3 linked regions of the Homo sapiens genome follow. The protein of the gene in region 1 purifies or fractionates together with the protein of each later gene. This does not show direct contact. Each region holds a gene or a part of one and is shown in the gene's direction. Other genes may lie near its edges.

Region 1 (2,329 bases):
GAGTCTCGCTCTGTCGCGGAGGCTGGAGTGCAGTGGCGTGATCTCGGCTCACTGCAAGCTCCGCCTCCCGGGTTCCCACCATTCTCCTGCCTCAGCCTCCCGAGTAGCTGGGACTATAGGCGCCCGCCACCACGCCTGGCTAATTTTTTTGTATTTTTAGTAGAGACAGGGTTTCACCCTGTTTAGCCAGGATGGTCTCAATCTCCTGACCTTGTGATCCGCCCACCTCGGACTCCCAAAGTGCTGGGATTACAGGCATGAGCCACCGTGCCCGGCTACTTAACTTTTTAGAACCCCCAAAAACAGTTGCCCTAAACTCAGCTCAAGTGTGATTTGGTAAGGCCATGGTCTCTCCCATTTTACAAATGGGAGCACCGAGATACCCACCAAGAAAAATGAAATTCTTCCCTCACACCTCACAATACAGGTGCATCATTTAGTGTTCTGTAGTTGTAAGTCATAGAAACAGGCTCTGGCTAATACAAGAGCTGAAAGACTAAGGGGGAGAGCTGGGCGGCTTGGAAGATGCAGATGGGCAGGAATCCCTGGATGGCTTCCTCAAGGAGAAGCTACAGGAAGGATCTTGCTCAAGAGAAAGAGTCTGATTGGCCTAAGTTACATCCTCTGTTCACCCTTTTGCCAGGTGAGTGAGGGGCCACTCACTTGGCACATGGACTGGAGGAAGGGTGGTTCCCAAATGAAGAGCAAGGTGCTGTTACCCAAAGGCAGGAAAATAGATGTGGGCCAGGCCAAAGCCCACCTTTCGACTATTGTGAGTACTGTAGGGAAGGATACTGCCCCTGAGGTCTGCAGGCTTCTATATGTAAGCCAGCCAGAGGTGTCCATGAATGCAGTATCAGAAAGTCAGTCGGATCTATAAGCACCCTGTGTGCAGAGCACTCTACTAAGGGCTTTAGAGTGTACCAAGGAGTGGAGACATGCTCTCACTTCTGATTTGTGAGCTTGACAGGGATGAATGTAACCACATAAGTTAAATGTCATGTTAGACTTGTAGCCCCATATAGACAAGGATTTTAATGTCCCCAAGCTAAGACTCTGGGTGGGTGCATGTCCATTGGCCCAGGAATCCAGATGGAAACCACTTTGTGGAAATGAAATCTTGTGCCTAACATGCTCACTCTCTTTTGCCCTCTGTTTCTCTTCTTACTTACAGTGGGAACGTTATCATAGAAACAAAGTTTTTTGACGACGATCTTCTTGTAAGCACATCCAGAGTGAGACTTTTCTATGTTTGAAAGAAGAATGTGTGTACATTTCAAGAATTTGGGTTTTTTGGAGGGAGGAGGAAACTGTTTACTTTTTTCCTCCACACGTTTGATTTTTGACACATACACCCCTAATTCCCTCAACAGCAGAACCTACCTGCAGCCACCAGGGGACCAGCTCTGTGTAGGTAACCAGATGGCTCTTTTTCCCAAGCCACCATCTTCCAGCTGACCAGACTAAACTCCCAACCCCAGACCAGGGCAGGGGACAGGTCTCAAGTCCTTCCCAGCATACACACAGGGAACAAACACATACCACAAACCGGTAACTGTACCTGTCACCCTCCTTGTCTCCTCCTTGGGCCCTACAGGCTACACATCTACCTTTGGCCCCTGGTTTTGGAAAAATTCCGTGTTCCTGACCCATGTTTAGTTTTTTCCTACCATTTCTATTTCATACATTCTCATACATTTAACTTGTAAAATAGACTGTGATATTATTACATAATGTAATTAAAAATATGAATTAAAATATTCCTACAGTCTTTAGCATGGCACTGCTTTTATCTCTCCTTTTTCTGGAAAGTGAACCTGGCTGCATAATGGAAAGAAACCAAATATAAGATCACAACTGTATTTCACTCCAGGAATGGAACTGATAGATCTTGTTCCCTAGTGCCACAGTTACTGCTTTCCAAAATTGTGCAACATACTTGAACCAAACCCATGACCTTAACATTTGTCTTTTAGACACAATCTTTAATGGTTCTTTTCCACAACATACATGCACCCTTTGTTTGTTTATTATTGTTAATTTTTTCTATTTGTTTACAGTATTCATTTGTTCAAGAAGTTTCAAGAAAGGGCAATTCTAAGTTAGTAGAGTAGGGACTCTCATATTCCTAAATGAGACTAGAAGCTACAAAATGAAAAGATCTGCATGAACCTAACTGGAGAATGATGGGAAGGCGTCTGGGCTGGGAGGAGGCTGGGAGGCCTTTAAGACTGTCGTCATTGGAAGCCAGCGTGGGAGAGAAGGGATTACAACTGGCAGTGCTTTCAGGTCCGACATAAGAGAGAACACCAAAAAGTGTTCTTACCTC
Region 2 (3,754 bases), on another chromosome or scaffold:
CACTGCAAGCTCTGCCTCCCAGGTTCACGCCATTCTCCCATCTCAGCCTCCCAAGTAGCTGGGACTACAGGCGCCTGCCACCACGCCCAGCTAATTTTGTTTTTGTATTTTTAGTAGAGATGGGGTTTCACCATGTTAGCCAGGATGGTCTCCATCTCTTGACCTCATGATCCGCCCGCCTCAGCCTCCCAAAGTGCTGGGATTACAGGCGTGAGCCACCGCGCCTGGCCGACCTGGCTAATTTTTAAATATTTTTGTGTAAAGATAGGGTCTCACTATGTTGCCCAGGCTAGTCTTGAACTCCAGGACTCAGGTGACTCTCCCATCTTGGGTCCATTAAGCTTTTAACTACAAACTACACTGAAATATGAAAGTTATTCAGAATGAAATGAATAAGAATGCAAAATTATAATCATACCGTAAGAATACTTTCTGAGTAATCCCAGCACTTTGGGAGGCCGAGACGGGTGAGTCACCTGAGGTCGGGAGTTCCAGACCAGCCTGGCCAACATGGAGAAACCCCATCTCTACTGAAAATAACAACAACAAAAAAAATTAGCTGGGCGTTGTGGAGGGCACCAGTAATCCCAGCGACTCAGGAGGCTGAGGCAGGAGAATCGCTTGAACCCAGGAGGCACAGGTTGCAGTGAGCCGAGATTGAGCCATTGCACTCCAGCCTGGGGGACGGGAGTGAAACTCCGTATCAAAAAAAAAAAAAAATGAATACTTTCTGAAAGTATTTATTCATACAAATAAAGACTTGACCCGTGAGGTAGGAACACAAATGGGCCACGGAATCACTCATTCCACAGAATATACCGAGTGCCCTTGAAGTGCTGGGCACTGCTCCAGGATTGGGGGCGTATTGGTGAAAGAGAAGCAAGCTGCCTGCTCAGATGGCAGGGAATGGGGGAAAACAGGGAGACAGTTTCCTGTTTGAGATGTTGGGAGATGCTTCGAGTAGTATATTTACTGGAAATAGACATTCAACTTGGATGTCCCTTTTTGGAAATGTGCCTGCGTCCAGGGCTGGGTTGGGGCCCCAATGAACTTTGGCTCTGACACAGCTGTTGCCACACTCAGTGGAACTGAATCTATGTTTGTCTTCCCCGGCATCCTTCACCCCAACTCTCCCCGCCACAACATACATCCCATGCCAGCCTGGGGACCCTCAAAGGTGGCTTCATCATTAGGTTTGTGGCTGGGTCCCACTGAAGTAAGTCTTGGCACTCAGAGGGATAGGAATTGAATGAAGACATGAGATTCCTCTGCGGGAGGCCTCTCTAGGAAATCTGTGGACTCACACGTTTACTAATGTTGCTGCAGCCCCGCACCCACCTTGGCCTTGGGCAGCCATACTCTAGGGCTTTTGTAACCTCTCCATGTGAGGAACTCAAATTAGACCTGGGTTTGGAGGCGGTGCTCCGAGCTGGCCTTTGGGGGAGGTTTTGTGCGAGGCATTTCCCAAGTGCTGGCAGGATTGTGTCACAGACACAGAGTAAACTTTTGCTGGGCTCCAAGTGACCGCCCATAGTTTATTATAAAGGTGACTGCACCCTGCAGCCACCAGCACTGCCTGGCTCCACGTGCCTCCTGGTCTCAGTATGGCGCTGTCCTGGGTTCTTACAGTCCTGAGCCTCCTACCTCTGCTGGAAGCCCAGATCCCATTGTGTGCCAACCTAGTACCGGTGCCCATCACCAACGCCACCCTGGACCGGGTGAGTGCCTGGGCTAGCCCTGTCCTGAGCACATGGGCAGCTGCCTCCCTTCTCTGGGCTTCCCTTTCCCTGCTGGCTGTGGTCGGACCCCCACTCCCGGCTCTGCCTTTTTCTCTTCTGGGTCCCCAGGGTGAAATTCTCACCAGCCCAGGGGACTCTGGAGGCACCCCCTGCCTCCAAACACAGAAGCCTCACTGCAGAGTCCTTCACGGAGGACGGTTCTGTGCTGGGCCTGGAGGGGCTGCCTGGGGGGCAATGACTGATCCTCAGGGTGAGCTCCTGCATGCGCACTGCCCACCAGGGGCCTCATCTCCCCATCTGCAAAATCAGGGAGAGATCTGCCTGAGTCTCCTCCCAGCTGACAGTCAAAGATTCAGCATCAAGCCCCCATCACCAGCTCCCACCTTCTCCCCAGATCACTGGCAAGTGGTTTTATATCGCATCGGCCTTTCGAAACGAGGAGTACAATAAGTCGGTTCAGGAGATCCAAGCAACCTTCTTTTACTTCACCCCCAACAAGACAGAGGACACGATCTTTCTCAGAGAGTACCAGACCCGGTGAGAGCCCCCATTCCAATGCACCCCCATCTCAGCTTCTGGCCAGAAGACCTGAGCAAGTCCCTCCTTCTTCCTGGCCTTGGCCTTCCCATGGGTGGAACCGGGAGGGCTGGCTTTAATCTCCACCAGACTCTTGCCCCAGGACTGTGATGGGCGATTGGCCACTTCTCAATAATCTTCCTGTTTTCCTTCCGCCTTCTGTTTGGCTTTAGACAGGACCAGTGCATCTATAACACCACCTACCTGAATGTCCAGCGGGAAAATGGGACCATCTCCAGATACGGTGAGGGCCAGCCCTCAGGCAGGAGGGTTCACTGTGGGAACAGGGCAGGCCAGCATAAGGTGGGGGCTGGATGTAGAGCCCTGGAGGCTTTGGGCACAGAGAAATAACCACTAACATTTTTGAGCTCTAACGATGTGCTCAGAAACAACTCTAAGAGGACACTGAGAGAATTAGAGGAGGAAAAAGAAGAACAGAGACCTCAAATAGTTTCCCCAAGGTCACACAGCTTATAATTAGAACTAGAATTGGAACTCCAGGCTGGCTTCAGATCTGCCTCTCTCTCATGCCCTCTTTAAGATCCTTTGCAAACCAATGGTAGAAGCCTGTATGTTGGAGAGGTGGTACCTTCAACTATGTCCCCCATCACCGCAGAGGTGGCACATGGCAGGGAGCTGATGGAGCTGAACTGACACCATTTAGCATCCCGAGCCTCCTCTCTGGGCCTCATTTTCCTCATCTGTAAAACGGAGAAAGGCCCTGACAGCCACGGTCTGTGTGAGGCTCCTGAGATCTCATGTACAGAAAGTGCTTGGCGTGGAGCTGGGCATGCAGCAGGGGCTGGGCACACGGTGGCCCAAAGGAGCCCTGGGCCTTCACTGATGGGCTGTGTGGCCACTGACACACCTAGGCCTCCTCACCTGTAAGACAGACACCATTGTGCCATCCCATGTTCTCACCCAGAGGCTCCTTTTCTCTTCCAGTGGGAGGCCAAGAGCATTTCGCTCACTTGCTGATCCTCAGGGACACCAAGACCTACATGCTTGCTTTTGACGTGAACGATGAGAAGAACTGGGGGCTGTCTGTCTATGGTAGGCATGCTTAGCAGCCCCAAACTCATGCCCCTCTCAGGCCTCACCCCCCATTCACCCACCCCTGGGCTGGCCCCTAGAACCCCAGCCCTCCCTGGCCTCCCGCCGGGCCCCACCATGTCCCCAGTCAGTCTCCTTGCTCCCCCTGCAGCTGACAAGCCAGAGACGACCAAGGAGCAACTGGGAGAGTTCTACGAAGCTCTCGACTGCTTGCGCATTCCCAAGTCAGATGTCGTGTACACCGATTGGAAAAAGGTAAACGCAAGGGATTGGACAGTGCCCACCTTGTCCATGGCCCAACTTGGGCAGCCCCAGAGGCCCAGAGCAGGAGAGCTGCCAGGCAAGGCTGCACAGCTAGGCAGATCTTCTGCTTTTAGGCACCTGCC
Region 3 (3,754 bases), on another chromosome or scaffold:
TCATTTCTTGCCTTTTGTTTCAGGAGTATACACCTTAAATGATAAGAAGCAGTGGATAAATAAGGCTGTTGGAGATAAACTTCCTGAATGTGAAGCAGGTGGGTGCTGAGCACTGAGCACTTAAGAGAGCAGGCAGGCGTCCAGCGGGGAACGTCCTAGAGGCACAGCCTTCCAGTGCGGCTTCCTCTGAGCACACAAGAGCCAGGAGGAGGGATGTGGGAGAACCGCAGCTGGCCAGGGAGAGACTTAAGCAGTTAGGTGATGACTCCCTAAGGGTCACCAAGGGTCTTGTTCATTGGGGCCTGAAGGGCACTGGCTGAATCCACTGTCGGCACTGCCCACAGATCAGGAGAGCCTGTGCATACAGAGAGCCTGCTAGAAAGCCCTGGGTCTAAGGAGAAGCAAGCTCCAGGGAGAACAAGTCAAGGAATGACATAAAATCTTAATCCATGGAAGCCTAGCAGGAGGCTGGACATGGGCTGGAACTCCTGCTTCTCGTTATTAGGAGGAGCTGTTGCTCTCTCCTTTCATTCTCAGAACCAGAGGCAAAGACCCAGCCTCTTCTGCTCTTACTGGTGTGGAAATGCCAACCTGCCTCGTATTAACTGCACCATCTACAAAATCTGAGCTCCAGCCAGTGCTGCTCTAGATTCATCTTTCTTTAGAGAGAATGAATTATTGTAGCCCCTAGCCCTTTCAATGAATTTCAGGGAATTGTGGAAATTCCTTTATTGGGATAATTGTTTAAAAATAATACAGTTCGCGAGCTTCTATTCGGGGTGGAAGGAGATTGATGTGCAGAGCAGCTCCCGCTCATCTGACTTTTCACGGTTCACTGGGAACAATTTCCAAATAGCAAACTCTCTGGCTTCTCTCTCTTTGCAGATGACGGCTGCCCGAAGCCCCCCGAGATTGCACATGGCTATGTGGAGCACTCGGTTCGCTACCAGTGTAAGAACTACTACAAACTGCGCACAGAAGGAGATGGTAAGATGTGGACAACTGTCTCCATGCCCTACATACAACCCCCTTCTCTGACATTTCCATGATGGGTGGTGCTGAGGTGATTCGCCAGAAAGTTCGTTGCTCTCCTTGGAGCCAGGAGATTTAGATTCTAATAAGCGTTTTGTCGCCAGTAGCCATGGCCCTTTGGGCAGACTAACTTTTGTCAGCCTCAAGTTTTCTGTTTTGTTAAGGGGAGGCGATGCCATGCAGCCTACCTCATGTAAATCTCAGAGTCACATTTACATCTCCAGCAGATGTGGGAAAAGAAGGAATGCTGATGATGATGTCACCCTCACCTAGTGAGTCTTGCTGTCCTGGCACTGCTCTAAGGGCTTTATACTTATTTGCTCACTTAGTCCTCACAGTATCCCTCTGAACAGAGTTTATTGTTTTCACTTTGCTGATAAGGAAACTGAGGCACAGACAGGTTGAGTATCTTGCCCAAATTCAGGCAGCCTGTAAGAGGCAGAGTCAGGATTTGAACCCTGAGCCCTCCCTGTACTGCTTGGCTGTGACCGCCATGACCACAGTGTGTTCTGCTGGGCTTAACTGGCATCCAGGCACTTGGCTTCCAGCACAGCACTCTTTCCCTTCCTCCTTCTCATATACTCTCTCCTTTTCCCCTTCCTTTTTGTCCCCTTTTCCTCTTCCTTTTAGTTCTTCTCTTTAAATGCCTTCTCACTCTGCACGGGGTCTAGACTTGACTTCTCCTTTGGCTCACTTCTTGCCTTTTGTTTCAGGAGTGTACACCTTAAACAATGAGAAGCAGTGGATAAATAAGGCTGTTGGAGATAAACTTCCTGAATGTGAAGCAGGTGGGTGCTGAGCACTTAAGAGAGCAGGCAGGCGTCCAGCGGGGAACGTCCTAGAGGCACAGCCTTCCAGTGCGGCTTCCTCTGAGCACACAAGAGCCAGGAGGAGGGATGTGGGAGAACCGCAGCTGGCCAGGGAGAGACTTAAGCAGTTAGGTGATGACTCCCTAAGGGTCACCAAGGGTCTTGTTCATTAGGGCCTGAAGGGCACTGGCTGAATCCATTGTCTACATCGCCCACAGATTAGGAGAGCCTGTGCATACAGAGAGCCTGCTAGAGAGCCCTGGGTCTAAGGAGAAGCAAGCTCCAGGGAGAACAAGTCAAGGAATGACATAAAATCTTAATCCATGGAAGCCTAGCAGGAGGCTGGACATGGGCTGGAACTCCTGCTTCTCGTTATTAGGAGGAGCTGTTGCTCTCTCCTTTCATTCTCAGAACAAGAGGCAAAGGCCCAGCCTCTTCTGCTCTTACTGGTGTGGAAATGCCAACCTGCCTCGTATTAACTGCACCATCTACAAAATCTGAGCTCCAGCCAGTGCTGCTCTAGATTCATCTTTCTTTAGAGAGAATGAATTATTGTAGCCCCTAGCCCTTTCAATGAATTTCAGGGAATTGTGGAAATTCCTTTATTGGGATAATTGTTTAAATATAATACAGTTCACCAGCCAGGGCTCAAAAATCTCAGTATTTCCCACTTCCTTTGTTAGAAAAGTGGGAAATAGAGCTTTTTGTAATGTAAACAATTTAAAAAACAGAATTATTTTAAAACTGCAACTATTGGAAATGAGATCAGCAGGTGGTAAGGGCAAAGCATTTAAATCTTTCTACTTTACGCAGCAGTGACAGCCGCCCATGCTTTCACCCCTTTCTCAGATGGAAAGGCTCTTGCACATTTCCACTCACGAGTGTCTTGCTCTCCTTGACAGTATGTGGGAAGCCCAAGAATCCGGCAAACCCAGTGCAGCGGATCCTGGGTGGACACCTGGATGCCAAAGGCAGCTTTCCCTGGCAGGCTAAGATGGTTTCCCACCATAATCTCACCACAGGTGCCACGCTGATCAATGAACAATGGCTGCTGACCACGGCTAAAAATCTCTTCCTGAACCATTCAGAAAATGCAACAGCGAAAGACATTGCCCCTACTTTAACACTCTATGTGGGGAAAAAGCAGCTTGTAGAGATTGAGAAGGTTGTTCTACACCCTAACTACTCCCAGGTAGATATTGGGCTCATCAAACTCAAACAGAAGGTGTCTGTTAATGAGAGAGTGATGCCCATCTGCCTACCTTCAAAGGATTATGCAGAAGTAGGGCGTGTGGGTTATGTTTCTGGCTGGGGGCGAAATGCCAATTTTAAATTTACTGACCATCTGAAGTATGTCATGCTGCCTGTGGCTGACCAAGACCAATGCATAAGGCATTATGAAGGCAGCACAGTCCCCGAAAAGAAGACACCGAAGAGCCCTGTAGGGGTGCAGCCCATACTGAATGAACACACCTTCTGTGCTGGCATGTCTAAGTACCAAGAAGACACCTGCTATGGCGATGCGGGCAGTGCCTTTGCCGTTCACGACCTGGAGGAGGACACCTGGTATGCGACTGGGATCTTAAGCTTTGATAAGAGCTGTGCTGTGGCTGAGTATGGTGTGTATGTGAAGGTGACTTCCATCCAGGACTGGGTTCAGAAGACCATAGCTGAGAACTAATGCAAGGCTGGCCGGAAGCCCTTGCCTGAAAGCAAGATTTCAGCCTGGAAGAGGGCAAAGTGGACGGGAGTGGACAGGAGTGGATGCGATAAGATGTGGTTTGAAGCTGATGGGTGCCAGCCCTGCATTGCTGAGTCAATCAATAAAGAGCTTTCTTTTGACCCATTTCTGTGTTGTGTTCAGTCTTGAGTCTTTTTTATTTGCTCCTTTATGGTCCAGGGTAGTCAGAAGG

What was found.
Region 2: the proteins of PDE6D (region 1) and ORM1 purify together in Homo sapiens (affinity purification with mass spectrometry; one large-scale study listed by BioGRID and IntAct). This does not show direct contact.
Region 3: the proteins of PDE6D (region 1) and HP purify together in Homo sapiens (affinity purification with mass spectrometry; one large-scale study listed by BioGRID and IntAct). This does not show direct contact.

The regions. Positions count from the first base shown.
Region 1 is NC_000002.12:231,731,879-231,734,207, reverse strand, and holds the end of PDE6D (retinal rod rhodopsin-sensitive cGMP 3',5'-cyclic phosphodiesterase subunit delta), read left to right. Parts: intron 1-1,174; coding exon 1,175-1,256; 3' UTR 1,257-1,775; downstream 1,776-2,329. UniProt on the Homo sapiens protein: Promotes the release of prenylated target proteins from cellular membranes. Modulates the activity of prenylated or palmitoylated Ras family members by regulating their subcellular location.
Region 2 is NC_000009.12:114,321,530-114,325,283, forward strand, and holds the start of ORM1 (alpha-1-acid glycoprotein 1 precursor), read left to right. Parts: upstream 1-1,568; 5' UTR 1,569-1,604; coding exon 1,605-1,718; intron 1,719-2,133; coding exon 2,134-2,276; intron 2,277-2,488; coding exon 2,489-2,559; intron 2,560-3,260; coding exon 3,261-3,368; intron 3,369-3,519; coding exon 3,520-3,623; intron 3,624-3,754. UniProt on the Homo sapiens protein: Functions as a transport protein in the blood stream. Binds various ligands in the interior of its beta-barrel domain. Also binds synthetic drugs and influences their distribution and availability in the body.
Region 3 is NC_000016.10:72,057,369-72,061,122, forward strand, and holds the end of HP (haptoglobin isoform 1 preproprotein), read left to right. Parts: intron 1-23; coding exon 24-98; intron 99-885; coding exon 886-987; intron 988-1,745; coding exon 1,746-1,820; intron 1,821-2,743; coding exon 2,744-3,522; 3' UTR 3,523-3,687; downstream 3,688-3,754. UniProt on the Homo sapiens protein: As a result of hemolysis, hemoglobin is found to accumulate in the kidney and is secreted in the urine. Haptoglobin captures, and combines with free plasma hemoglobin to allow hepatic recycling of heme iron and to prevent kidney damage.